Regions from separate parts of the Homo sapiens genome. Here region 2 is linked to region 1. Evidence: fine-mapped expression QTL. A gene starts in region 1. The other region holds a variant in brackets. All regions are shown on one strand. Distances are from middle to middle.

Region 1 (17,057 bases):
GGCCAGGTCTGGTGGCTCACGCCTGTAATCCCAACACTTTAGGAGGTGGAGGGAGAAGACTGCTTGAGCCCAGGAGTTCGAGAACAACCTGGCTAACAAAGTAAGATCCTATCTCTACAAAAAATCAAAAAATTAGCCAGGTATGGTGGAGTACATCTATAGCCCCAGCTACCTGGGAGGCTGAGGTGGGAGAATCACTTGAGCCAGTGAGGTCAAGTGTACAGTGAGCCAAGATCATGCCACTGCACTACAGCCTGGGGGACAGAGCAAGATCCTGCCAGAAAGAGAAAGTAAGGAAAGAAAGAAAAGAAAGAAAGAGAGAAAGAGAAGGAAGAAAGAAAGAAAAAGAAAGAAAAGGAAGGAAAGAAGGAAGGAAGGAAGGAAGGAACGAAGGAAGGGAAAGAAGGGAAAGAAAGGACAGAAAAGAAAGACAGACAAACTCACTCTGGCAGCAGAGGAAAAAGCATTTCTAGAAGAGTTACTCTTGACCACACACCAACTATGTGCCAGGCCCTATGCCAACCGTCTCACATGACCTTATCTGGACCTCACAGCAGCCTCTGGTACTATTATTCCCATTTCACAGATGAGAAAACCAGACTCAGAGATAAATTATGTTGATCAAGACTCCACAGGTAGCAAGTGGCAAAACTGGAATTAAATTTCAAACTCGCCTCCAAAACCAGTGCACCCAACCTCCCCGCTGGGGGCGCAGGCCTTCAGCTGGGAACTGTTTGGGCTTGTGAGAAAGGTCCACACATGGGGGCAGATGGAATCCAGAGCTGGTGGCTGAGATACTTCACCTTTACCTCCAGGGCCCAGGGCCAGAGTGAACCACAAGGGGCCTGGCTCTGTGGCCCAAAAGAAATTCCTTTCTCAGCTCCAAGAGACTAGGAAAATAATTCTGTAAGGACCGATGCACCCAACTTTAAGATCTCGAGACTCTGACCAGGCTGAGTAGTGTGTTACAGAAGTCTAGCTCTAGAAGGAATCTTCGCCATCACCTCACCTACCTTCGTCTACTATTGAGCGCTTCCTATGTGCTAGGTGCCATTCTAAGTGCTTTCTGTATATAAATGCACTAAATCCTTACAATCCTCTGAGGTCTTATTATCCCCATTTTACAGCTGAGAAAACTGAGGCTCAGAAGGAAGTAACTTGCCCAAGGTCACAGAGCAGGCCAGTGGCAGAGCCAGGACTCAAACCCAGGCTGTGCTGTCCAGCCATTAGGCCTCTCCCCATTACAAAGATGGGGAAACTGAGGCAAGAGAGGTGTAGTCTTCCATGGATTTCAATCCCCAGGGGCTTGAAGTGATAAACGGTGTTAAGTTTCTTAAACATTTAGTGTCACCCAGCATCACTGGCACCTGCTTTTCATTCACCCTGGGGAGTCAGAGGTGTGCAGAGCAGATTCGGAGCTGCGCTCTCAGTACTGACCTCGCTAACCAGGTACTCTGCCCTAGGAATGGAGGTGCAGTGAACCCTCATCCCGAAGGAAAGCACCTGATTGAAGGAAAGCATCCTGAAGGAAAGCAAGGGAAAGGGCACCTGATTGAACAGCAGGGAGGCTGGGAGGGTTGGGGTGGTCAGGGGCTTCTCTGAGGAAGGGATGGGGGAGGCTGAGGGGGAAGAAGAGCATTTTGAGCAGGAGGGGCGGCACTCACAAAGGCTCTGTGGCAGAAGGGGGGCGTGGAACTTTCTGGAAACTGAACAGAAGCCAGTGTGGCTGGAGTGGAAGGTGAGGGGAGTGGAGGAGGGAGGGACAGGAAGTTGGGGGCAGGCAGGGCTGGGCATGAGGACGATTCTGATCTTTATCTTCAGAGCTAACCACTGTCCCCTCCATCTGATAGTAAACCCTGGACCACAGACAGGAAGGAACTTGCTCAGGGCCACACCGCAGAGTCAGCCACAGTGGTCCCAACATCCAGCTTTTAAAGAAGACACCGAGGAAAGAGACAGAGGGAAGGTAGCTCCCATCACCCCTTTCCTCCCCAAAATCGACACCTAACTCTTCCCACTCTGGGCTTGTTTTGGAAATGATCTTCATTTTCAATGCTCTCGCTCCTATGCCTAGACTGTACACAGAGTAGGTCTTTAATAAATGGGCCCTGCAGAGCCCTGGATTATTCCGGAAAGAATGGCAGTTAGCATGAAAGGCTGAGTCCCAGGGGGGCCTCTGATCCGCAGGATACCCTAAGGGTCATGCTTACAACCTATGAGGTAAAGGCTTTTCCTAGCGCTGGAAGGGCCTGTAATACAGAGTGAGCACCCAGCTGGGCCCACACCTCTGCCATCTCTGTTAGGGAAGAAAACAACGTAACCTGGAAATACTGCAGATCCTTAGCACACACACAGTCTCCTCTGCGTGACGTCACTTTGGTTTGATAAATATGAACAAAGTTAGCACCAGTTGCTCCTCTTAAGCCCCTGGGAAAAGAAACGTCCAGAAGCCTAAGCCTCCCCTGCCTCAGTTTCTTCATCTGTGTAACAGGAGGACACCCAGAGAGGCCTTAATGTGCAGGAAGACTCCAGGGAGAAACTGAGCCAAACGGGCCCTGCACTTCCTGGCAGCCCAGGGAAAGAGGGGCCAGTAACTGTCAGGACAAAACCACTGTCTTTTGGCCCTGGGGGAGCTTCCTGGTAGCCAAAGAGACACAGGATTCTCAGGTATGGCCTGAAAGAGGAGCTGGAAGCAGGGAAGGAACCTGAGCTAAACGGGTGGCAGGGCCAGGACCTTTCCCAGCTGGGCAGGAAGGACGGACCTGAGCCCCTGGACTCTCACTACAGTGCTCAGCCCAGGGGAGGCCGCCCAGCTCTTTCCCAGACAGGGGTCAATGGACCAAGGCAGCAGAGGGTCCCAGGATGCTATGCTGGAACAGGAAACCTGGGTGCTGGTCCAGGCGCCAAGGCCTCAGGCTCCTTTCTGCGAAACGGAGGCAGTACCCATTTGTCCCACGGGGGTGCCTCAACTGCCAGAGACAAGCATCTATCTGGACGGTCACTGTAAGTATCCGTTTACTAACTGTTAAATACCTATGTGGGGCAGGGATCCTGCATCATCAACGACAGCAGCAACTCCTGCTACTGACAAGCACCAGCCTGCCATGCATCTACACTGCACTGCCCCTAACTCATGTCATCCGTGTAACTGTATGGGGTAGAACTGAGGCTCTGAGAGATTAAGTAAATTGGCCCAATTCATAAAGCTTACAAACAACAGAGCCCAGACACAAATGTCAGAATCAATCTATCCAGCCAGAGTTTTTGTTTGTTTTTTTGAGACAGAGTCTTGCTCTGTCGCCCAGGCTGGAGTGCAGTGGTGCGATCTCGGCTCACTGCAACCTCTGCCTCCCGTGTTCAAGTGATCCTCGGTGCCTCAACCTCCTGAATAGCTGGGACTACAGGCGAGCACCACCACACCCAGCTAATTTTTGTATTTTTAGTAGAGGTGGGGTTACATCATGTTGGCCAGGCTGGTCTCGAACTCCTGACCTCAAATGATCCACCTGCCTGGGTCTCCCAAAGTGCTAGGATTACAGGTGTGAGCCACCACGCCTGGCCCAGCCTGAATTTGTAACCCTAATTCTAGACTACGTCCTGGACCATGGATCCATCATCCTAGGAGGTAGGGACTGTATTTAACTTCTTTTTACAATGAAGAAATAGATACTGAGAGAGTTCAGAAACCTACTCAAGGTCACACAGAAACCTACTCAAGACCTTGAATGCAGACCTGCCTGCCCCCAAAGCCTGTGCTCTGTCCACTGTGCTACACCGTCAGGATCTCGAAGAGCCGTAGAGGGCAGATGGAAATGAGGAAGTCTAACCTGGAGAAGGAAAGGCTGAAGAGAAACCAGCAGGGCATGCAGACCAAGACTTAAACCCTTTGTTTGCCACTAGAGGACCCATGGCGGGGTAGGACTTCCCAGAAATGGAATAAACTCCTACCAGTCCTGTGCAAACACTTGGTGGCCTGTTACACGTGCTAGTGAGATCCCCCAGGGTGGCCGGGGCCCAGGGACACCAGTCAGGGCTGCCAAGGATGGGAGGCAGAGTTGTGCAGCGGTTAACTTCGTGGGTACTGGAGGCAAACAGGTGGATCTGATCCTGGCTCCATGACTTTAGAACCTAGTGACCTTAGGCAAGTCACCTGACCTCTCAGAACAGCTGTTGGCTCTTCTGCAAAGAAGGGCAATACTGCCTGATTCAGTGTTGTTGTGTGGATCCAGTGGTACAGGGAGGTGGAGAGGTGTGGGAAGCGCTCCACACAGTGCCTGTGAGGAATTCAGCCCTCCATCCCAGCAGTCCTCATTACTGAGTTTTTAACCCAAATGCTACACGACTACCTCCTAGACCACCAGATCCTCCTCCCAAGGTCTTCTTCCCACAAGACCTCTGTACCCTAGTCCAGTCCTTTCTAAGCTCATCACAATGTCATTCTTGCAGCTCAGGACCTGGCTTCAAGAGACATGGACAGGGCTTGGTCAGGAGCTGCCCTTTGTGCAAAGGGCCTGGGGCAGTTGTTTCTTCTCACCTGGCACCACTGCCCACTCTGGCTGAGCTGGGCAGAAGCAGGCACTCAGCCCTTGCCCAAGGAATATACAAAACGAGGGAGTGGGGAGGGAGTGCAGGCCACAGGGAGCAGTTCCCCACCTCCTGAAGGGCTCTGAACTCAGAACATCCCCTAAGTGCCTATAAGCAAGGAGTCAACAGCTGCCCTCCACAGGGTGGCCAGATCCAGCAAACAAAAATACAGAACACCCAGTTAATTTCCAATATCAGATCATGAATAATTTGTTAATATGTCCCACATATTGCCTGAGACTTACTCATACTAAAAAACTGTTCGTTGTTGATCTGAAATTCAAATTCACCTGGATCTCCTGTACACGACCTGACAACCCTGACCCCTCAGGGCCTTCCAGCACTTTGTTGTCTCTGACTGGTAGCGGCTAACACCCTTGGAGACTGGGGTCTCGTTTGCCAAGTCAAGGGGAGGACCAGCCTTTTCATCCTGGGTACCGAAAGCCAGCATAGCTCATACCTGTGGATGCTCTTAGCCTGTCAGGCCCAAAAAGTTGCTCAAAAAAAGCCCCAAAGAGACTAAGCCCTCCCAAAGGACAGAAACAGCCAACGTTAAAGTCAGCCCTAAGCTGGTACCCCAGAAAGGACCTGGCCCTGGAGTCTGATCCCTATGGGTTCAAATCCTGATATTGCCACTTACTCCCCGTGGGACCTTGGCAATTTACCCAGTCTAAGCTGAAGTTTGCTCATCTGTAAAAAGATGACCATATCAGCTTTCTCATAAGGCTGCCTTGATTAAATAACCTGGCACACCACAGAAGCCCATAAATTAGAGCTCTGTCCCTCCCACTGCCCTCACCTGATCCTCTGTCAGCAATTATTTTAAGCAAATCCCTCATCAGAGAAAAGGCAGTTGGTGTTAACCCCACATTGCCTGGAATAGAGTGCATATTGATACCAACAAGCCTCGGCTGCTGTCACGTAAATTTCTTCCCAGCTGAACGTTCCATCCAAGCCCATTCCCTTGCTCCAGCCATGTCTCCCCACCACCTTTGACTGGAAGCTTCAGGAAGGTTTGCTGAAGCAAGTATGATTAAGAAGGGAAACATGCCTATAGCAAGTCATAGCACAGATGTTGTGTAATAATAAAGTGTATTAAGCCATTGTTTTGTAACCATCTATTTCTCAGGTTCCTTTAGTCCCAGACACCAACAGGGAGCTAAATGCTCTGTCATTCATGAGTAAGAGGACATTCCTGGATATTGCCTCAAAGGAGGCTGCACTAAGACCCAAAATGGCCGGTTTGGTCCAAGGTCCACACCTTCCTGACCAAAACTACAGCCCCTAGCCCCTCTAATGCAAATGGAGCCCAGACACGTGGGCGGCGGGGCTGGGCGGGGAGAAAAAGAACAGCCGCTGGCACCCAGACCCGGACTGAGCTCACGGCTCGGGAAATGAAGACACCACAGGAAGCCCTGCAGTGTTTTCCCCAGTGCACAAAGTTGGGGTTTTCTGCTTTTAAGTAATTTCTGTTGGAGTTCGCGCTTCTTGATTATGAAATAAGGGCGCTGGATGTGTAAACTTTATAAAACCAACTGCTTGGGAACATCTGATTTCCTTAACCCGACTTAGCAAACAAGGAGGCTCCTGAAACGGTGCTGGGACCCGGGGGGCAAGCCCAGTCCCTGACCCCGCGCGGGGGAGGTGAGCCGCCTACAAGCCCCTCCCGCGCACCTTCCTCCTCCTCCAGGGGAATTCTGGGCGTGCAGGCAACAGCAATGCTGGGACCGGCGCTGCCCGCTGGGAGGGTCTGAGTCCGGGAGGGGGCGGCCCTTGCCCTCCGCTGCCACCTCCCACGGCCCCTCAGTGTCGCCCTGCTGGCCTGTGCCTGGATCACTCTCCCTGCTGTGGCCTGCCTGCCCATCTCCTTCTTGCGTGGGGTCTGTACCTTCCCTTCCTCCCTACCATCCCTCTTTCCCCAAAACTCCGGTCCTTCCTCCCACCTTCCGGGAAAATGCAAATGTCCCACTTCCTCCCGCAAAGGGGACCCTCCCCCCAGCCCGTCGCCACCTTCAGGTTCACAGCAGGCAGCTCCATCCCGACTCAGGCCGAGGGCACCTGCGCCGCAGCCGCGGGGGGCTCCTAGGCTCCGAACTCGGGGAACAAACTTGCCCGGCCCCGCCCCGCCCCGCCCGTTGCGGCCACTCCAACCCCAGCGCAGCTCAAGACCACGTGAAACGGGCTGGAGCGGGTCACGTGACCGCCGCTTGGTTGCTAGGAGACGGCGTCGGCAGCTCGCGCCTTCAGCCAAGCTCCAGACTCCCGCCACCGCCCAGGCAGTACTTGGGGGCCGCTGGCGAAAGTTGGAGTTTCTGTCGCCCAGGGCGTATCCTGCCTGGCTAATATTCCAGGAAGCGGACTGTTCGGACTGCCTGCAGCCAGGACAACTGGGGGACCGTCCAGGCGCAAAGTGCTGATGTGGCAACAGCTTGTGTCTCATCCTTGGGGGCACCCTCTCTCCTTCCCACTTCCCTGTGTAAATGGGCTATTTAGGCTACCTACCTCATATGATCCTTATGAGGATTAAATGAGCTAACTGCTGTTGTTAAAGAAAACGTTATTGGGACTGTTGTTAAACCAGTACTGTTCAAGACTTGCTGTAGGGTTATTGCCATGGAGTGAGAGTTTGGGCTCAACACCGAATACAACAAGGACCAAGGAGGGATTTATAGCCAGAGCAGAATGAGGGAGCAGGAATGGAAGATTCCTAGGAGGAGACATCAAGGATGGGGGAGTTCTTGCTAACTTAGCAGGACTCTTGCTGAAACTGGTTTATTATGCAGGCTCAGGCCCAGCAAGGACAGGAAGACACAGAGGTCCAAGGCCGAGGCCTAGTCAAGATGAGGACTCAGAGGAGTCTAACTACGGTTTGTTCTAGGAGAGAACAGTGCCCGGCACTTAGTAAATGGGCAGGACACACAAGCTATTGTTATTACCAACACAAGATGAGGCTGGGCGCAGTGGCTCACCCCTGTTATCCCAGCACTTTGGGAGGCCAAGGAGGGTGGATCACCTGAACTCAGTAGTTCGAGACCAGCCTGGCCAACATGGTGAAACCCCGTCTCTACTAAAAATACCAAAATTAGCAGGGCATGGTGGTGTGCACCTGCAGTCCCAGCTACTCAGGAGGCTGAGGCACGAGAATTGCTTGAACCGGGGAGGCTGCAGTGAGCCGAGATCACGCCACTACACTCCAGCCTGGACGACAGGGTGAGACCTTGTCTGGGAAAAACAAACAAACAAAAAGCAACACCTGAGGAGCCAAATTGGTGGGAGCCCACTTTAATCAGCATACCAAAAGTTTTAGAAAACTCTAGCTGAAAAACCATAAGAAATTCCTCCCCCAATTGTACATGAGGAAAGAAAGGGCTGTCTCCTGCCTCACCTGGCACCTCCCTTAAAGATTGTTGACCACCACATCCCCCCACCGCAACAAGAACATTAATCCGCTCTACCTCCAGGTCCCTTCCTAACATCAACTTTCCTTTAGAGAACACCAGCTTTTGTTTAGTGTCACCTAGGTATGGAAACCTTCAGGGTACACCTGAGCACTTGGTCTTATTCCTAGGGTGGGGGAAACCAGGTGGGAACCTACAAAACTGCCTGGGTGAGTCCTTAGATAATACCAAGACCCATAGTCTCTCCAGATGCAAAGAAAGGGTTTCTCTGGATGGATGAGGAGAGTTTTGCAGGGCTGCAGGGCCCATAGGCCTAACTTAATGCCCTCTTAGGAGGCACAGATCCCCCCAGTCTAGGGGTAAATTAGAGACCAGCCAAATGGCTACATCCAGTTTGATTTAGGACTGGTTGCTATTATTATTATTAGTTCATTATTGGTAATTAATTATTGTTATTAGTAAAGTACTTAGAAGAGAGTAATTTCTCAGTAAGCAGTCAATATTAGAATATTATGTTATTATTATCTTTTTTTTTTTTGAGATGGAGTCTGGCTCTGTCACCCAGGCTGGAGTGCAGTGGCGCGATCTCAGCTCACTGCAACCTCCGTCTCCCGGGTTTAAGTGATTCTCCTGCCTCAGCCTCCTGAGTGGCTGAGACTACAGGTGGGTGCCAACATGCCCGGCTGATTTTTGTATTTTTAGTAGCGATAGGGTTTTGCCACGTTGGCCAGGCTGGTCTCAAACTCCTGACCTCAGGTGATCTGCCCGCCTCGGCCTCCCAAAGTGCTGGGATTTCAGGCGTGAGCCACAGTGCGCAGCCTGATCAATTTCCTTCTAAAAAATATTTCCCATACACTCCAGATTCTAGAGGGATTTAATCCAAGCCTTTAGGTATATAATAAAGTTGTGATCACTTTGTAAGGAGAAAATGAAAAACAGGCCGGGCACGGTGGCTCAAGCCTGTAATCCTAACACTTTGGGAGGCTGAGGCCGGTGGATCACTTGAGGTCAGGAGTTCGAGATCATTTTGGCCAACATGATGAAACCCCGTCTCTACTAAAAATACAAAAATTAGCCAGGCATGGGGGTGTGCACCTGTGGTCCCAGCTACTTGGGAGGCTGAGGCAGGAGAATTGCTTGAACCTGGGAGGTGGAGGTTGGAGTGAGCCGAGATCCTGCCACTGCACTCTAGCCTGGGCAACAGAGTGAGATTCCATGTCAAAAAAAAAACAAAAAAACCGCAAAACAACTCCTAGGATTAGAGCTGACATTTACTAAACTGACATTTACAGGACCCTGTAGGGGCGGAAGGGTGTGATACCTTTCCTCACCCATCATAAAGGTCACAGCTGACACTCCTGTAAAAAAAGACTGCTTAACAAGAGAAAAGCATACCAAGTTTAGTTAAGCAAAGCTTCATGTGACATGGGAGGCTTCAGAGATGAAGACTCAAAGGCCCTGGGAAATCTGTCCATTTTTGTGCTTAGTTTCAAGGAAGAATGAACAGCCCTGTAGCAATGCAATTGGATAAAAAGAAAATGAACAAGTCTTGTCCAGATTCTTCTTGGGCTCTCCATGCAGCATTCCTTCCTCCTGGGTATGAGGTAGAACCCCTCTGTAATGAGGTCTTTAAAGAGAGAAGGGAGAGAGCCACCTTTCTAGGTTTTATGGCTACTTTGGAGACACGGGTTCTAGTTTCTGTGACCCACCTTGGAGAAGGAGGATTTTTTTTTTTTTTTTTCTTGAGACAAGGTCTTGCTCTGTTACCCAGGCTGGAGTGCAATGGTGTGATCATGGCTCACTGCAGCCTCAACCTCCTGGGCTCAGGTGATCCTCCCACTTCAGCCTCCTGAATAGCTGGGATTAGAAGCACCTACCACCATGACTGGCTAATTTTTGTATTTTTTTTTATAGAGACAGGGCTTGCCATGTTGCCCAGGCCGGTCTCAAACTCCTGGGCTCAAGCGATCCACCTGCCTCGGCCTCCCAAAGTGCTGGGATTACAGACTTGAGTCACCTCATCCCCTGCCAAAGGAGGAATTCTTGTTCTGTGACTGCCTCACGGGAGAAGGAGGGGCTGGAGACAGGAGGTCAGGAGGGCGTCACAGAGACCTTGCTTTTGAGGCCTCCAGTCTTCTGTAGTTCATAGTACTTAGCATGCCAAAGCACCAGATATTGGGGTGACATTTTCTGAGCCCCAACAGTAGTTGTCGTGTGGCAGACAGTGTGAAAGGGCTTCATAGTGGGCCAGGCACGGTGGCTCACATCTATAATCCCAGCACTTTGGGAGGCCAAGGCGGGTGGAACACCCGAGGTCAGGAGTTCGAGAACGGCCTGGCCAACATGGTGAAACCCTGTCTCTATTAAAAATACAAAAATTAGCCGGGCATGATGGCACATGCCTATAATCCCAGCTACTCGGGAGGCTGAGGCATGAGAATCGCTTGAACCCAGGAGGTAGAGATTGCAGTGAGCCGAGATCCTGCCATTGCACTCTAGCCTGAGAGACTGAGAGACGGAGCGAGACCCTGTCTCAAAAAAAAAAAAAAAAAAAAAGAAAGTTCTTCATAGTAAATGCTCACAACAGAACTATGGCACGCGCTGTTCTTATTCCTGTTTACACTTAGGCAACTGAAATCAACAGAAGTGAAGCCGCTTGCTGCAGGCACAGCACTAATTGCTGCTGGAACTGCGGTGGGACCCAGGAAGCCTGGCTCCAGGACCCTGACGTGTAACCACACAGCAGAAAAATCCGGCCAGGGCTGAAATGAGAAGGATAGAGTGAAGCAAGTAGGAGAAGACAAGGATCGGAAGGCAGCACAAGGCTGGGCCTGTGGAACGTCCCTGTGGCTCAGACACTGACACTGTATTCATCTCCACCAGCTGGGGCCAGAGGCGGAGGGAGGAGAGCACGAGAACACCCAGCTGGCTGGGCGGGCTTGGCAGGCTGGTGGGGTTGGGGGGATGCGGGGAGGTGGGAAGCACGGAGAAACAAAAGAAAGTGAAACTGTCGGTATCCTCAAAGGAACCGGAGTTCCTGCCACGACCTATTCTTGGCTATGGAAGGACATAATAGACCCCCACGTGGCATTCCACAAGGCTTGGGGTCATGTATTGAGTGAGTACAGACACTCCCCAACTTACAATGGTCTGACATGATTTGTCTACTTTCCAACAGTGCGAAAGCGATCTGCGTTCAGTAGAAACCATATTTCCAGTCCCCAGTATAACCGTTCTGTTTTTCACTTGCAGTATAGTGTTCAATAAATTCCATAGGGTTTTCAGCACTTTATTATGAAATAGGCTTGTTTTTCATGATTTTGCACAACTGTAGGCTAATGTAAGTGTTCTGAGCATGTTTAAAGTAGGCTAGACTAAGCTATGATGTTCAGTAGGTTAGGTGTATTAAATGCATTTTATTTTCTTTTTTTGAGACAGGGCCCTCTAGGTGCTCTGTCACCCAGACTGGAGTACAGTGGTGCAACCTTGGCTCACTGCAGCCTCCAACTCCTGGGCTCAAGTGATCCTCCCATCTCAGCCTCCCAAGTAGCTGGTATTACAGGCTCACACCACCATGCCCAGCTAATTTTGCTTTTTTTTTTTTTCTTGAGATGAACTCTCACACTGTCGCCCGGGCTAGTGTGCAGTGGGGCGATCTTGGCTCGCTGCAGCCTGCACCTGCCGGGTTCAAGCAATTCTCCTGCCTCAACCTCCCAAGTAGCTGGGACTACAGCCATGTGCCACCACACCCGGCTAATTTTTGTATTTTTAGTAGAGACGGGGTTTTACTGTGTTGGCCAGGCTGGTCTCAAACTCCTGACCTCATGATCCACCTGCCTTGGCCTCCCAAGGTGCTGGGATTACAAGCGTGAGCCACCGTGCCCGGCCAGAGGGGACATTTGTTTCTGTGACTACTTAAAACTAATGAGGGCTGACTCTGAACGATTTGTCCCGATGGCACAGAATTCAATCTTACAGCGGCATCCCTTGCTGACACTTATGGACTCCAGCCAGCCTCCATAAATACTCCTTGAGCTTTAAAACACAGGAAATCATGCCTGATGTTCCGGCTGCTCTGCCACCTCATCAGGGTCCTATGAAAATTACTGCCGGTTAAGAATGATCCCCGCCAGGCCTTCCCAGACATGTGGCAATAGTGCCCTGTCCCTCCAGAGACCCTTGTGCTCAGAGAACCCATCAGAATGCCCTATGGAACCTTTGGTGATTGTAGAAAAGGCAGAAAAGGAAATTGCCTGTGCCCTGTTGGAGTCCAGGAAGCTGTGGCTGTGTTAGAAACCACCCAGAACACAAGCGGAAGTAAGAGGCTATTGCCCAAGAGGAAGGAGAGGCACTTCAGCTACTCTCAAATTCTGACCTATGGTATTTCCTTCAACCCCTGCTGCATACAGCAGCAATCCTCTTATTTTATTGTGTGCGTGTGCACGCACATGTGCAGGTGTGTGTGTGTGTGCATGTGTGTAGGTGTGCATGGGCATGTGCATGGGTGTGCATGTGCGGTGGTGTGTGTGTGTGCATGTGTGTAGGTGTGCATGGGCATGTGCATGGGTGTGCATGTGTGTGGGTGTGGGTGTCTGCATGTGCGGGTGCGTGTGTGTGCGTGTGCATGTATGTGTGGGTGCGTGTGTGTGTGTGCATGTGCATGCTCACGTGCTTTCCTCAACTCTGAGCATCTTGTTCAGAGATCAACTCCAGCCCCTGGCCCAGGCCCTGCACGGAGCGAGTTTCAATGTGTGCTGCTTGCCTCCCGCCTCCCATGGCCTGTCCTGGTTGTGTCATAACTTCAGGCTGCTTCCTCCTCCTCTCTTCGTTCTCCCATTTTTCCACGTGGATGCTGCTGGAATTCCAAGGGAGGCGTTGGAGGGCTCTGGCTGAATCTGAGTGATGGCTCAGATACACACATGAGGCCTGTTGTGGTCACTGAGCCCGACGGCCCGAGACGCCTATCTGCCATGGGGTTTATCTTTGGTGTTTGCTTTCACTGCTTTCAGGCCTCACTGGCGGTGGCTTTCACGTCTGACTCTGCTGCAGGCTCTTCGAGGTCTCATCTTCCTTGCAGGGGGCCAGTGGCCACAGGGAGAGAGAAGAGAAGAACGAGGAAGTGGGTGGGGGAGGGGAGGGTGCTTCCACTGGCTCTCTGGAAGGAATCCAGCCCTCTTCCTCTCTGGGAAGCCGGCCTGAAGGTGAATCCAACTTCGGTCCTGGCAGCCCCCTGCCTGACAGCGGCCTCGATGGGTCCTAAATGAGTGGCACAGTGCCTGTGAGGTGGGAGTAGGGGTGAGATCAGTGATCAGCTCCTAGTAGGTGCTCAGTAAACTTCAGGTATTTGAGAGGCAACACGGGGTCATGGACATGATCAGGTTTTGGAGTCAGGCAGACCTGGGGGAGGCCTCTCCAGCACCACTTTGGGCAAGTGGCCTTAATTCCTTTGTGCTTCCATTTTCATGCTTGGCAAAAGAAGGTCTAACAGTTCCCAGTTACGCAAGAGGAGGGGCGCCTCACGCCGTCAATGGAGGCCAGGGCTGTGTCTGGAGGAAGGTGTTCCCTCTGTACACAGGTATTCTGCTCTGTGCCAGGCGCTGACACAGGTCAAGGTCGGGATGCACAGTGCCAGTTCAAGACCACAGCATATAGCGCCGTCCAATTGTGCCCTTGCCGCAGTGCCTAATCGCCAGCAGGGACAGAGCCCAGGCTCCTGACTGTGGTTCCCCAGTGCAAACGTGTGAGTTTCAGGATATGCCATCGTGTGTTGGGGGAGGTGTGATGAAGGGACAGGGGCAGCTCTGTTTTGTCATTTGCTGACCCAGTCAGGCATCCATTCATATCGCTCCTCACCCGATCCCTCCCCACCCCATCCCACCCCAAATTGCAATTTCATGTCCTAACACTGGGTAGACACTGGTCTGGGCCCACCACAGCATGTGTGTCCATGTTCATGACCAGGGTTGGCCACCGCTACACTGAGGCTCAAGCTGCCAAACAGAGTGAGGAAGCCCAGAGCTTCATGACCCGCCACGGTCAACTCTGTCGCACGTCCAGTCACCGGGATCTGAGCTGGGGAGCTGAGCTCCAGAAAGCTCCATGATGGTCAATTTCGTGTGTCAGCTTGGGCAAGTTCTAGTATCCAAGGTTTCAGTCAAAAAAGAATGTAGGTGTGTGTGAGGGCATCTGCAGTCAGTTGGCTTGAAGGAAAGGAGGGTACCCCTGAGAATGTGGTGGGCCTCATCCTATCAGTTGAAGGCCTTAAGAACAAAAACTGAGGTCTTGGGAGAAGAAATTCAGCCTCAAGACTGCAGCATTAACTCCTGCCTGAGTTTCTGGCTTGCCTGCCTGTCCTACTAATTACAGACTTGCCAGCCCCTACAATCATGGGAGCCAATTCCATAAAATAAATCTCTTTATATACAGTCATGCATTGCTTAACAGCAGGAATACATTCTGAGAAATGTGTCATTAGACAATTTCATTGATGGGCAAACATCATAGCATTACACACTGCAAACATCATAGTGTGTACTCACACAAACCTAGATGGTGAAGCCTCCCACACACCTAGGCTCTCTGAGATAGCCTGTTGCTCCTGGGCCACAGACTTGCACAGTATGTTACTGTACTGAATACTGCAGACAACTGTGACACAATGATGAGTATTTGTGTATCTAAACATATCTAGACATAGAAAAGGTACAGTAAAAGTATGGTATTAGAATCTTATGGCATGGTGGCTCATTACAGGCATGGTGGCTCATGCCTGTAATCCCAGCACTTTGGGAGACTGAGGCAGAGGATCACTGAGGCCAGGAGTTTGAGACCAGCCTGGGCAACATAGCGAGACCCCGTCTCTACAAAAAATACAATAATTAACCAGGCTAATTACTGTATTTATAATACAATAATTATTATTGCATTAATAATACAAAACTTCGGAGGCCGAGGCAGGAGGATCATTTGAGCCCAGGAGTTTGAGGCTGCAATGAACCATGATTGTGCCACTAGACATAGTGTCATGACTGTGCGCAACCTAGACGTAAAGCCAGATTCTGTCTCAAAAACAAAACAAAACAATCTTATGAGACCACTGTTGTATGTGTGGTCTGTCATTGACTGAAATGTTTATATGGTACATGACTGTGTGTATACACACACACACACACACACACATGAGATATATAAATACATAGATATTTTAAGATATATAAATAATATCCAATTGTTTCTGTTTCTCTGGAGAACCCTGACTGATCCACCCCAGTGCAGCCATCTGCCCTCCACCAAGGGCTGCACCCAGGCTGCTGGCACTGAGAGCTGACATCCTGTGGCCTTGGGCTTGACTGCCCTAACCCCTTATCTCAGCACTGTTCTGACCTTTATTAGTAGAAATGGGATCCAGTGGACATCCCAGGACAGAGGGGTTTGGCTTTTAGATGGCCAGCATGCCTTTCTGTAACCTTTGACCCAGGGGTCAGTAGTACAGACTGGGGTCAGCAAGCTACAGCTCCTGGACCAAATCTGGCCCGCTACCCTTTTGTGTAAATAAAGTTTTATTGGAACGCTGCTGTGCTCACTCATTTGCATGCATCTGTTTCTGTGTGATCCATGGCTGCTTTCATACGACGATGGCAGAGTTGAGTAGTGGGCAGAGAGGGTATGACTTGCAAAGTCTCTTGGAGGGGTACAGGCCTTCTGGGCTCAGCTCCTCAGAACCATCCCCCGTGGGAGCTCCTCCAGCCACCTGGGGCTGTGTGGGGAGGACTGTGAGTTCTCAGAAGATTTGGTGCAGCAGCTCTCAGACTTGAGTTTCAGTTGTGCAGATTCCCAAGCCCATGCCTGGAATTCTGAGTCAGAGGCCCAGGTGGGGCTCAGAAACCTGGGCTTGCCGTCCACAGGATTCTGATGCTGGGGGTCCGAGGACCCATGTTTTAGGAAACCCTGGATTTGGGAAGCCTGATTTTCCCTGTCCTGGCTAGGCAGAGACGTCTCTGCAGATACGGACACCAGGCTCTCAGGGCGCCCCATCTCTGTGGTCACCACGGCCCCCAGGGGTGTCTGGGCCCCACCTTGGCTTTAGGATCAAGGTCACTGGGAGACATAACAGCCTGCCCGAGGAAGCCCTGGTCAGCAGAGCTGGGCGGCACTGGCTGGAACTGCCACCACGATAAGAGATGTCCTTCCTGGTGCCAAGCCAGGCCACCCCCTCACCAGTTCATGCCCTTTCCCAAGATGGCAACTGACCCTGCCCCAGCCCTGGCTTCTGTTGAGCTGCCTTGTCCTTTCTTATCTTGCAGGAGTCCCGCTTCTGCTCTTCTCTGCACTCGGCCACCTTGGCTCGGAAGGAAGCTGCTGGGGACCGGCCTGCTGCAACCCACCTCAGAATCTCTTTCGGACCTCAGCTGCCCCAACCCTAAAATGGGTAGGGAGATAAAAATCTGGGACTCCGGCCAGGTGCGGTGGCTCATGCCTGTAATCCCAGCACTTTGGGAGGCCGAGGTGGGTGGATCACTTGAGGTCAGGAGTTTGAGACCAGCCTGGCCAACATGGTGAAATCCCGTCTGTACTAAAAATACAAAAAGTAGCCTGGCGTGGTGGCACACGTTTGTAATCCCAGCTACTCGGGAGGCTGAGGCAGGAGAATTGCTTGAACCTGGGGGGCAGAAGTTGCAGTGAGCCGAGACCGTGCCACTTTACTCCAGCATGGGTGACAGAGCAAGACTCTGTCTAAAAAAAAAAAAACAACAAAAAAATCTGAGACTCGCAGTCAAGAGGTCTGGCTGAGGGATTATGATGAGGACCAGGCGAGGGCAGGGGTCCTGTCTGCCTTGTTTGCTGCTTAGCTCAGGGCAAATGCTCAGTCCAGTGTGTTGAGAAGTCATAGGTGGAATACCAGGCTAAGGATCCCCTCCAAATGCCCCTGTAGAGCTCACTACCAGCACAGACAGACCGTCTCCTGGAGGAACAAAGAGAGACACCAGGTGGGCTTTTTAACCATCGTCTCTTTATTTACAGCTCAAGAGCACATGCAACATGACATCATGAAACTACAAGGGCGTGGCACTTCCC
Region 2 (11,145 bases), 25 kb before region 1:
CAGAGTCCTTGTGGGGATGGATGAGGTACCGGGAGGCTCTGGGCGCAGGGCCTGGCAGGTAGAGTGGGCCATAAAAGTTACTGCCTTTGTGGATGGGAACTAAAGCTCAGAGAGGTCAAGCAACTTGCCTCATGGTCACACAGCTGGAACACGAAGAAACTGGGATGTGAATTCAAGAATCTACATTTGTTCTTGGGCTGCTCCCCTTCTTGGCTGGCCCAGCTCTGTGGCTTTCTTTTTTTTTTTTTTTTTTTTTTTTGAGACAGAGTCTTGCTCTGTGGCTCAGGCTAGAGCACAGTGGTGCCATCTCGGCTCACTACAACCTCCGCCTCCTGGGTACAAGTGATTCTCCTGCTGCAGCCTCCCGAGTAGCTGGGATTACAGGCACCCGCCATCATGCCTGGCTAATTTTTGTATTTTTGTAGAGACGCAGTTTCACCACATTGGCCAGGCTGGTCTTGAACTCTTGACCACAGGTGATCCACCCACCTTGGCCTCTCAAAGTTCTGGGATTACAAGCGTGAGCCACCACGCCCGGCCCTCTGTGGCTTTCTTAAAGCCTCAGCAGCCTGAGAAGGGATGTCCCCAGGACCGAGCTGTGGGGGCCCCATCTTAGCCAGGGGCACCAGCCAGGCCTCTTCCTGACCTCACTCTCCCAAGACCCCCCTCCTTAGGCCCCAGGCTGGGAAGACTCTGTCCTATGTCCAGCCGACCGTGGGTGGCTGATCTCTGGAATTAGCCAGGCCCTATAGGCTGGCCTGCCTGGGAGGGGGGCTCTGGGCCAATACCTAGAGAGGGCCCTGCTCCTGTAACTGCCCATCCAGGCCCACTAAGCCTCTTGCCTGGCTTCGGGAGCGCTGCAGGCTTTGGGGACACATTCTCCTTGTGGCTGGCATCAGACCTTAGCTCCATGGGCTCAGGGACAGGAGTATCCTTGGTCCACTCCACAGTGAGTGGCCTGGTCTGTTTAATCAGATGGGCCCTGCGGGGAGAGGACAGGTTGCCCTGGCTCTCATTCAACCCCACCCCATTCTGATCCCTACCTCCTCCCTTTAGCAGTACTCCTAGCTGCTCTTGGCCTGGTCCCAGCTGCCTGGGGCCTGCCCCTCACTGTTCTGGTCTCTCAGTGGCTCCTCTCCCTGCCCTACTTATCACCCCCCTTTCCATATTAAGTGTCCAGGTCAAATGCTGCCCCATCCTGCCCCCCAGACCTCTCGGCTGATCTGCATACAGGTCTGAACATGCAGGTCCAGCGACCTCCTCCACGCCTACCCGGATGTCTAACAGGCATCTCAGCATTAATATGTCCAAAACTGAACTCCAGCCGTCCTCGCAACCAGCTCTCTCCCATCTTGGTGCCCCCCTTTTCCACGGATGGCAGCTCCGGCCTTCTGGTGGCTCAAACAAAAATCCTGGAGCCACCCCGATTCCCCTTCTCCCTCACACCAGTGGCTGCTCTGACAGGCTCTGCCTCCCACACGCATCCAGGATCTGACCCCTGGAGCACTGGGCGGAGTGGCCCTCACCTGCCACCTCCCAACTGGTCACCCTTATTCTGCCTCGTCCTCACGCCCGACAGCCTCCTCTTCATGCGGCGGCAGGGTGATCCTGTAAACACTGAAATCAAATCATGCCCTGCCTCAACTCTAATGCCACAGAAGCTCTCCAGCCCCCTCAATGCCCCGTGAGCCTTCAAGGCTGTAGGCCAGAGGTTAGCAAATTACTGCCTGGGCCAGTGGTCTATTATGTGAATAAAGTTATATTGAAACAAAGCCCATTTGTTTACAGACTGTCTGCTTTCCAGCTGCAATAGCAGAGCTCAATAGCTGCAAGATACCTTAGGCTGCAAAACCTTTTTTTTTTTTTTTTTGAGCCGGAGTCTCACTTTGCCACCCAGGCTGGTACAATGGCGTGATCCCGGCTCACTGCAACCTCCGCCTGCCTCCCTGGGCTCAAGGGATCCTCCCACCTCAGCCTCTAACAAGCTGGAACCACAGGCACATGCCACCACGCCAGACTAATTTTTCTATTTTTTGGTAGAGACAGGGTTTCACCATGATGGCCAGGATGGTCTCGAACTCCTGACCTCAGGTGATTGGCCCGCCTCGGCCTCCCAAAGTGCTGGGATTACAGGCGTGAGCCACCACACCCAGCCCCGCAAAGTCTTTAAAATCTGGCTGCCAGTTATGGTCCTCCCCAATTCCTCTTCCCCTTGCCCACTGTCCTCCACACACACCAGCCCCCTGGCTGCTCCTCCAAATGGCACACACGACCTCACCTCAGCGCCTCTGTGCTGCTGTCCCCTCTGCCTTCAAGTCTTGCCTCCCACATCACAGTGAGCCCTCCCTGCCCACTGTCTCTCCAACTGCAGCAACCTGGCCTCTCCTCACTCTCTTTGCCCTGCACTTGCGGCCACCTAACATAGTGAAGAAATTAGTGTATTTCTCCCTCCAGTGGCCTAGGAGCCACACGAGGGCAGGCTGGTTTTTTTTGTTTGTTTGTTTCCCTGCTGGATTTGCAGCCCATAGAACAATGCCTGACCCCCAGCAGGGGCTTGTAAATGCACATTGAATAAATGACAACCGTGCTAGGCACCTTGCAGCCTTCAGCAGGCGTCCTGCCATTTAATCTGCACTGCAGCCCTGGGACTTAGGTTCCCTGTTTTAGAAATGAGGACAGGAGCTTAGAAGGGCCTGTCCCACCCAAGGCCTCAGAGGGAGCACCCCAGGGCTGGCTCCACAGCGCAGACTCCTAACCAAGAACACCCCACCATCCCCTCTTGCCCAAGTTGACTTGAGGCCGCTCAATCCACAGGAGACCTTCCTGCACCCCTGCCCCTCACGCCGGAGCTCTTCGGTCCATTTCTCCGCTCCTCGTCCGTCTCCCTCAGACTCCCCCCTCCCACTCCACCCCCACCCCTGTCCACTTAAGGGGGCTCACAGCCTCCCTCCTCTTGCCACCAAAAGAGTCTGAGGTCAGTTTCCTGCCCTCATGGATCTGCCCTCACGTGCGTGGGTCCTCCTCGGGTCCTCCTTCACCCAGTCGGATTTGAATCTAGACGGGGGCTGGGACCGCTAACGATCCCCGCAGGTCGGCAGGTCGCGGGCGGGAGGGGACGTCGGAGAGCAGAGCGTGCTGCCCCGCGCTTGGCCCCGCCCAGCCCTGAGCCGTGGGCGTGGCCACCGACGTCCTGGTACAGGTTTTGCCGGGTCCTCCGCAGGCAAGGCACGTGGTCCCAGGGCAACTTTTGCACGTGCAAGATGAGCGACATTCTCTTGGCCATCAGGTCCCCGGGAACCTCCTCCACCCTCTGCCCCGAATCCTGTGGCAGCATCACTGGGGTCTGGGCTTCCTCCACCAGGCGTGCCTCCTCTTGGCTCCTTCCCGCACCTAGAGCTGCCTCCTGGAGCCCCCGCACATCTGGGATACCCCCAGCCATGTCCCCACCACCTATGCCTCTTGGGGCTGCAGGACATGCCCCCGGCTCCCACTGGTAGGAACCCCAGGGGCAGGACATCCGGGTCATGGACACTCACATCCTCACCCGTTCCCAATAGGTGCGATGTCCCATCCAGGGATGTCTCAGATGCAGCTGGCAAACCATGGCCCTCATGGCTGAGGACACACCCGTGATGGGACCCCAGGATCTGGGGGGCAGCCACCACCCTGATCACCACCTGGAATGCCTCATCCTGGACCTCCTCCAATGAGCATGTCCCCCAAGGGGTCTCGGTCTGGATCTCCCATGGGTCACTCACGTCCTATGCCTCCATGGTATGTGTGGACCTCCTCCACCGATGCTGCCTCATGGATACACTGGCCCTCCCCAACACCCACCCTATGGCTTCCGGGGGGGACTCTCCCTCCACCCAGACCCACTCCGGGGCCTCCAGTTCCCCCTCAAGGCCCACTTTGGGGCCCTCTCCCTCAGTAAATTCACATTCTTCTTCCTCCTGTTATATCTTCCCAATATCTTTTTGATTCCTTGGACCAGAGATGCTGCAGCTCCTTGCAACTAAGGCACAAATCCCTTTCAGCCTTCCCATCTTCCTTTTTAATGCCATTTTTTTCCCCATAGAAGGTATTTCTTTTTCATGTTGGTCCTAAGTATTTTGCAAATGCAAAGGAAAATAAAACTATAACAAATTTCTTGTTAAAAGAAAGAAAGAAAGAAAGGCTAGGCACAGTGGCTCACACCTGTAATCCCAGCACTTTGGGAGGCTGAGGTGGACGGATCACAAGATCAGGAGTTCAAGACCAGCCTGGCCAACATGGTGAAACCCTGTCTCTACTAAAAATACAAAAATTAGCCGGGCATGGTGGCGGGCACCTGTAATCCCAGCTACTCAGGAGGCTGAGGCAGGAGAATCACTTGAACCTGGGAGGCAAGGGTTGCAGAGAGCCAAGATCCTGCCATTGCACTCCAGCCTGAGCAACAGACCAAGACTCTGTCTCAAAAAAAAAAAAAAAAAAAAAAGAAAAAAAGAAAAGAAAAGAAAAGGCTGGATGTGGTGGCTCATGCCTGTAATCCCAGCACTTTGGGAGGCCGAGGCAGCCGGATCACTTGAGGTCAGGAGTTCAAGACCAGCCTGGCCAACATGGCAAAATCCCATCTCTATTAAAAATACAAAAAGTAGCTGGTGTGATGGTGTGCACCTGTAATCCCAGCTATTCAGGAGGCTGAGGCAGGAGAATTGCTTGGACCTGGGAGGTGGAGGTTGCAGTGAGTGGTGATCATGCCACTACCCTCCAGCCTGGGTGACAGAGTGAGATTCTGTTTCAAAAAAGAAAAAAAGAAAGAAAAGAAAAGAAAAAAAAGAAAGAAAAACTCTCCCAGCCTTCAGGCACCTCAGAAACTGGCTGGACTCCACCTTAATACCCAAGCTTTGCCGTGCCGTCAGCCTAGCTCGATCACACTTCCTTCAAGGCTGCAAAGGTCCGTCCACTTTCCACCTCCCAAACCTTTGCCCACATTGTTCCCCACTGTGCCCAGCCATCCCACTCCTTCCTCTGTCCAGACTGTATGTTTTCTCCTTTCTAAGCACCTGCTGGGAGAGGAAAGAGCACTCAGTCAGAAAACCTGTGATGAACTCCTTCTGCTGGCCAGGCGCAGTGGCTCACACCTGCAATCCCAGCACTTGGGCAGGCTGAGGTGGGAGGCTCTCATAAGCCCAGGAATTCAAGACCAGCCTGGGCAACATTGCAAGACCTCATCACTACAAAAAAAAATACAAAAATCATCCGGCTGTGGTGGTGCACACCTGTGGTCCCACCTACTTGGGAGGCTGAGGCAGTAAGATTGCTTGAGCCCAGGAGTTCAAGGCTTCAGTGAGCTACGATCATGTCACTGCACTCCAGCCTGGGCAACAGAGTGAGACCCTGTCTCAAAAAAAAAAAAAATCCTTCTGCTGCTGTGTGATCTTAGGCAAGTCCCTAACCTCTCTAAACCTAAGGTTCCTCATATGTAAAAGGGGGATGGTTAGGCCCGATGCAATGGCTCACGCCTGTAATCCCAGTACTTTGGGAGGCCAAGGTGGGTGGATCACTTGAGGTCAGGAGTTCCAGACCAGCCTGGCCAACATGGCGAAACCCCGTCTCTACTAAAAATATAAAAATTAGCTTGGTAGTGGTGGTGCGTGCCTGTAGTCCCAGCTACTGGGGAGGCTGAGGTAGGAGAATCTCTTGAACCCGGGAGGCAGAGTTTGCAGTGAGCCAAGATTGCGCCACTGCACTCCAGCCTGGGTGACAAGAGTGAAACTGTCTCAAACAAAACGAAACAAAACAAAACAAAACAAAAGTGGTGGGGGTGGTAACACCTCCCTCCCCTACCTCTCTGCCTTGATGTGAGGGTCAGATGTTTAACAAATAAATGCCAAAGAACTTTTTAAATGCTAAAGCAATTCTTGAAGAAGGAGGGGGTGATTACTGCTCCCTTTATAGGTCTGTGTGTCTAATCTTTCCTCCTAAATCTGGTGGATGGAAGCTTTTGTTCTTTAGGTTTATTTATTTTATTTTATTTTATTGTTTGTTTATTTATTTATTTATTTGAGACGGAGTTTCGCTCTTGTTGCCCAGGCTCGAGTGCAATGGTGTGATCTTGGCTCACCGCAACCTCCACCTCCCAGGTTCAAGCGATTCTCCTGCCTCAACCTCCATAGTAGCTGGGATTACAGGCATGTGCCACCACGCCCGGCTAATTTTGTATTTTTAGTAGAGACGGGGTTTCTCCAGTTGGTCAGGCTGGTCTTGAACTCTCGACCTCAGGTGATTCGCCCACCTCGGCCTCCCAAAGTGCTGGGATTACAGGCATGAGCCACTGCGCCCAGCCTATTTATTTTTTGAGAAAGAGTTTCACTCTTGTTGCCCAGGCTGAAGTGCAGTGGTGCAACCTTGGCTCACTGGAACCTCCACTGGAACCTCCACCTCCTGGGTTCAAGTGATTCTCCTGCCTCAGTCTCCCAAGTAGCTGCGATTACAGGTGTGCACCACCATACCCAGCTAATTTTTTTTATTTTTCATAGAGACGGGGTTTCACCATGTTGGCCAGGCTGGTCTTGAACTCCTGACCCCAGGTGATCCACCTGCCTTGGCCTCCCAAAGTGCTGAGATTACAGGCGTGAGCCACCGCACCTGGCCTGTTCTTTAGGTTTTGACTCTCTTTAATCTGTAGTAATATTTTTTGCCTTAAAGTCAAATTTGTGGGATATTAATTTAGCACCACCAGTTCCACTTTGGTCCCTATTTGCCTGGTATAACTTTTTCGTCCTTCTACCTTCAGCCTTCCCATGTCCATAATTTTAGGTTTGTCATTTGTAAACACAATATAGCTGGAATTTTAAAAAATCTGATCTGACAATGTATCTTGAGTTTAATTCTTTACAAATGTATGATTTTGACATATTTATTCTATCTTATTTTTGTGCTTGCTAGTAGCCAGAGTTTTCATATTTCTCCTTTCTTGCATTTTTTTTTTTCTTTTTTGGAGATGGAGTCTCGCTCTGTCGCCCAGGCTGGAGTGCAGTGGCGCCATCTTGGCGCAAGCTCCGCCTCCCGGGTTCACGTCATTCTCCCACCTCAGCCTCCCGAGTAGCTGGGACTACAGGCGCCCGCCACCACACCCGGCTAATTTTTTTTGTATTTTTTAGTAGAGACGGGGTTTCACCGTGTTAGCCAGGATGGTCTCGATCTCCTGACCTCGTGATCCACCTGTCTCGGCCTCCCAAAGTCCTGGGATTACAGGCGTGAGCCACTGCACCTGGCCTCCTTTCTTGCATTTTTAAGAATTGATCAAGGTTTTCTTTTTCTTCAGGTCCCCCCTGCTCCTCACTGGCTTGGAAACTGCACATTTCATATCTATTCTTTCTGTGGTTATCCTACACACACACACACACACACACACACACACACACACACACACACGTATATTTAGAGACAGAGTCTTGCTCTATCCCCCAGGCTGGAGTGCAGTGGTGCGATCTTGGCTCACCGAAACTTCTGCCTCCTGGGTTCAAGCAATTCTCATGCCTCAGCCTCCCTAGTAGCTGGGATTACAGACACCTGCCACCATGCGTCTGTACATAATTTTTGTACTTTTAGTAGAAACCGGGCTTTGCCATGTTGGCCAGTCTGGTCTTGAACTCCTGACCTCAGGAGATCTGCCCACTTCGGTCTCCGAAAGTGCTGGGATTACAGGTGTGAGCCACTGTGCCTGGCTCCAAGATATTTTAATATGTATATTTAACAAAAACTAAAGTTAATTGCCAATATTTAATCTCCTTTTAGGTCAAAATTACTATTTCCTTTGTGCA[TC/C]TCAGATCTTCCTTCTGAGAAAAATTCCATGTGCCATCAAAAGATTCTTCAGATGTTTCTATATCAAAGATCTATGGGTGATAAACTCAACTGTATTTTTCTCAGTATCTTTATTTTACCCTCATCCCTGAAGGATGACCACAGGTGCATAATTTTAGGTTGACAGTTATTTTTCTCACCACTTTGAAGGTATCATTCCACTGTCTTCCGACTTCTATTGTTGCTGTTGAGACATCAGCTGCCAGTAATTGTCAATCTTTTTGAGACAATACCTTTTCTATCTGGCTGCTTTTGGGAGCTTAATTTTTGTCTTTGGTGTTCTGTAGTTTTCATTCATTCATTCATTCTACAACTTTTACAAAGCATTAACTGGGTGCCATGGGTGCCAGCATTGTTCTAGGTGTTGAAGGTATAGAAGTGAATGAACCATGTTCTGTTAGAATGACTGTCATCCAGGCTGGCTGGGTTGCAGTGGTGCCATCACAGCTCACTGCAGTCTCGAACTCCCTGGGCTCAGGTGATCCTCCCACCTCAGCCTCCTGAGTAGCTGGGCCTACAGGCACTACTCCCGGCTAATTTTTGTGTCTTTTGTATTGATGGGGTTTCGGCATGTTGCCCAGGCTGGTCTCCAACTCCTGGGCTCAAGTGATCTACCCACCTTGGCCTCCCAAAGTGCTGGGATTACAGGTGTGAGCCACTGCGCCCGACCTCTTTTTATTTATCCCGTTTGGGAATTGTTTAGCTTCTTGAACCTGAGCTTTGCTGTCTTTCCATTTTGGAAAATATTCTGACATGATTTCTTTGAATGTTGCTTCTCTCTCATCATCTCCTTCAGGAACTCTGGCTATATTTATATTGCTCCTTCTCACTCTATCCTTTGTGTCTTCTTTTTTTCCCCCCCGAGATGGAATCTTGCTCTATCACCCAGGCTGGAGTGCAGTGGTGTGATCTCAGCTCACTGCAACCTCCACCTCCCGGGTTCAAGCAATTCTTCTGCCTCAGCCTCCCGAGTAGCTGGGATTACAGGCATCTGCCACCATGCCCAGCTAATTTCTGTATTTTTAGTAGAGACGGGGTTTCACCATTTTGGCCAGGCTGGTCTCGAACTTCTAACCTCGTGATCTGCTCACCTGGGCCTCCCAAAGTGCTGGGATTACAGGCATGAGCCACCATGCCCAACCTGTGTCTTAACTTCTTTTTTGTATTTTCTGTCTCTTTCTACTGCATTCTGGGTGATTTCTTCAAATCTATCTCCCAGGCTACCATTTCTCTCTTCAGATAAATCTATTCTATGAATTAACCTAGGCATTGAGTTTCTGATTTCAATCATGTGTTTTTCATTTATACTTCTGTTTCATTCTTTTAAAACTCCACTGGCAATCCTGATCTCTGCATTGCCACATTCCAGCTCTGAAATCAAGTCTCCGTGTGCCCTTGTCCAAGGCTGTCCCTTCTGGGCCTGTGTCTAGGAGATTTAGGAACTAGGAGATCAGCTTTCACGTTGTGCTCTGGGGATCCCTGGGTTCCCTGGTACTGATGAGAGGGTACTTGATCAGACCTGCTGCCTCTTATATATTGAATATTTCTTTTAAACAAGGGATTTGAAATAATTTTTTTTTGAGACAGTCTCACTCTGTCGCCCAGGCTGGAGTGCAGTGACGCAGTCTCAGCTCACTGCAACCTCTGCCTCTCATGTTCAAGTGATTCTCCCACCTCAGCCTCCCAAGTAGCTAGGACCACAGGCACGAGCCACCACGCCTGGCTAGTCTTTGTACTTTTAGTAAAGACGTGGTTTCGCCATGTTGACCAGGCTGTTCTCGAACTCCTGACCCCAGGTGATCCTCCCAACTCAGCCTCCCAAAGTGCTGGGATTACAGGCATGAGCCACTGCGCCTGGCCTTGAAATAAAATATTTTTAAAACCACTGGGCTAGGGGAGGTCTAAGTTTCCTTCAAGTTCAAATTTGTGATACTGAATTTTCATCTCAGATATGACAATGTTTTATGACAACCTGTTGACTCTGTAGTTTCTGACTTAGACGTGTGAACAAAAGCACCTGACCACCTGGAGAACTGGGTCCTGAGTTCTGTTGCTAGTGAGGAAAATCTGTTTTACTTCCTGAAAAATTTTCCAATCTTTTGAAAACTTGTAGAAAGCACTCAAGAAATGTTCATAGCATTGAGTCAAAGAGATGAATTGACTTGCCCGAGATCACACAGCTCAAAGCTGATGATGCTGGGATCCATGCCTAGGCAGCCCAGCCCAAAGCCAGGCTCCAGGCCACTGTGCCATGGCCTTCCCCATAGAAGCTGATCAGAGGGACACCAGCCCCAGGCCCACGCACTCCTCTCCATCTCCCCTCCCAGGCACAAGGGCACGACATTACTGTATCCAGACAGCCTCGGAGGCTGGGGCTGGGTCCAAGGCAGGGCCGTAGGGCCCCAAGTACCCCACACTCCTAACACCCATCCTCTCCTCTGTACATTCATCCTGGGACCCTGAACAAGTCCCAGGGGCTGCAGGCCTCAGCTTCCTTGTCTGTCCAATGGGAGAAACATTCTGGTGCCCCTCACCTGGGGACAGGTCTGGCAGCAATGAGGTCAGCCAGGGTGGGAGGCCCCAGGTCACTCCTGCCCTCGACCGGCTGGTACCAGTCACAGGCCACCTGGACTCCTTCCCTCTCTAAATGATTACACAGTCGTACAGATAATGAGATCTAACATTTATTAAACACTGATGTTGCACCATTTTCAGTCCTCACTAATACCCGAGTCAGGCACTATTATTGTCCCCATTTTCAGATGAGGAAGCTGAGGCACAGTGAGGTTAAGAGATAGTGTCTCTTAACACAGCCAGTTACAGAGTGCATAGGGGATTTAAACCAAGGCTCACTGACTCCAGAGCCCGTTTAGAGACACAGTGTGAGAGTTGGCATTTCCAGGCCATTCCGGAGACTCTGAGAACCGGCCTGAGGTGGGGCCCTGTAGGTACTGCAGCTCTGGTCCAGTTCTGGCCAACAGGAGAAGGCAGTGACCTCCTGTGGGGCAATTTCTCTGGCTTCCTCATGTGGAAGGCTCAGCTTTGTGAAAACAAGAAATAGATTTGCAAACTGGACAAGTGTGACTTCAGTCCTGATATGGTTTGGCTGTGTCCCCACCCAAAGCTCACCTTGAATTGTAATAATCCCCATGTGTCAAGACCGGGGCCAGGTAGAGATACTCGAATCATGGGGATGGTTCCCCATACTGTTCTGGTGATGGTGAATAAGTCTCATGAGATCTGATGGCTTTATAAATGGGAGTTCCTCTGCAAGGGCTCTATCTCTTGCCTGCCTCC

Evidence for each region. PIP is the estimated chance that this variant, and not a neighbour inherited with it, causes the effect.
Region 2: its variant is fine-mapped to the expression of AGTRAP in whole blood (INTERVAL, PIP above 0.99).

Annotation. Positions count from the first base shown.
Region 1 is chr1:11,725,773-11,742,829 of GRCh38, reverse strand. It overlaps AGTRAP (angiotensin II receptor associated protein), which reads right to left and starts at 6,694. Exons shown (of 5, transcript NM_020350.5): 1 at 6,595-6,694. The coding sequence starts at 6,621. It overlaps DRAXIN (dorsal inhibitory axon guidance protein), which reads right to left. Exons shown (of 7, transcript NM_198545.4): 7 at 16,973-17,057. RefSeq lists enhancers at 10,649-10,738, 15,631-16,618.
Region 2 is chr1:11,754,168-11,765,312 of GRCh38, reverse strand. C1orf167 (chromosome 1 open reading frame 167) reads right to left here and starts at 3,120. Exons shown (of 21, transcript NM_001010881.2): 1 at 3,008-3,120; 2 at 843-982. The coding sequence starts at 912. It also overlaps the pseudogene LOC101060126. The variant TC/C (reference allele first, on the strand shown) is at 7,809.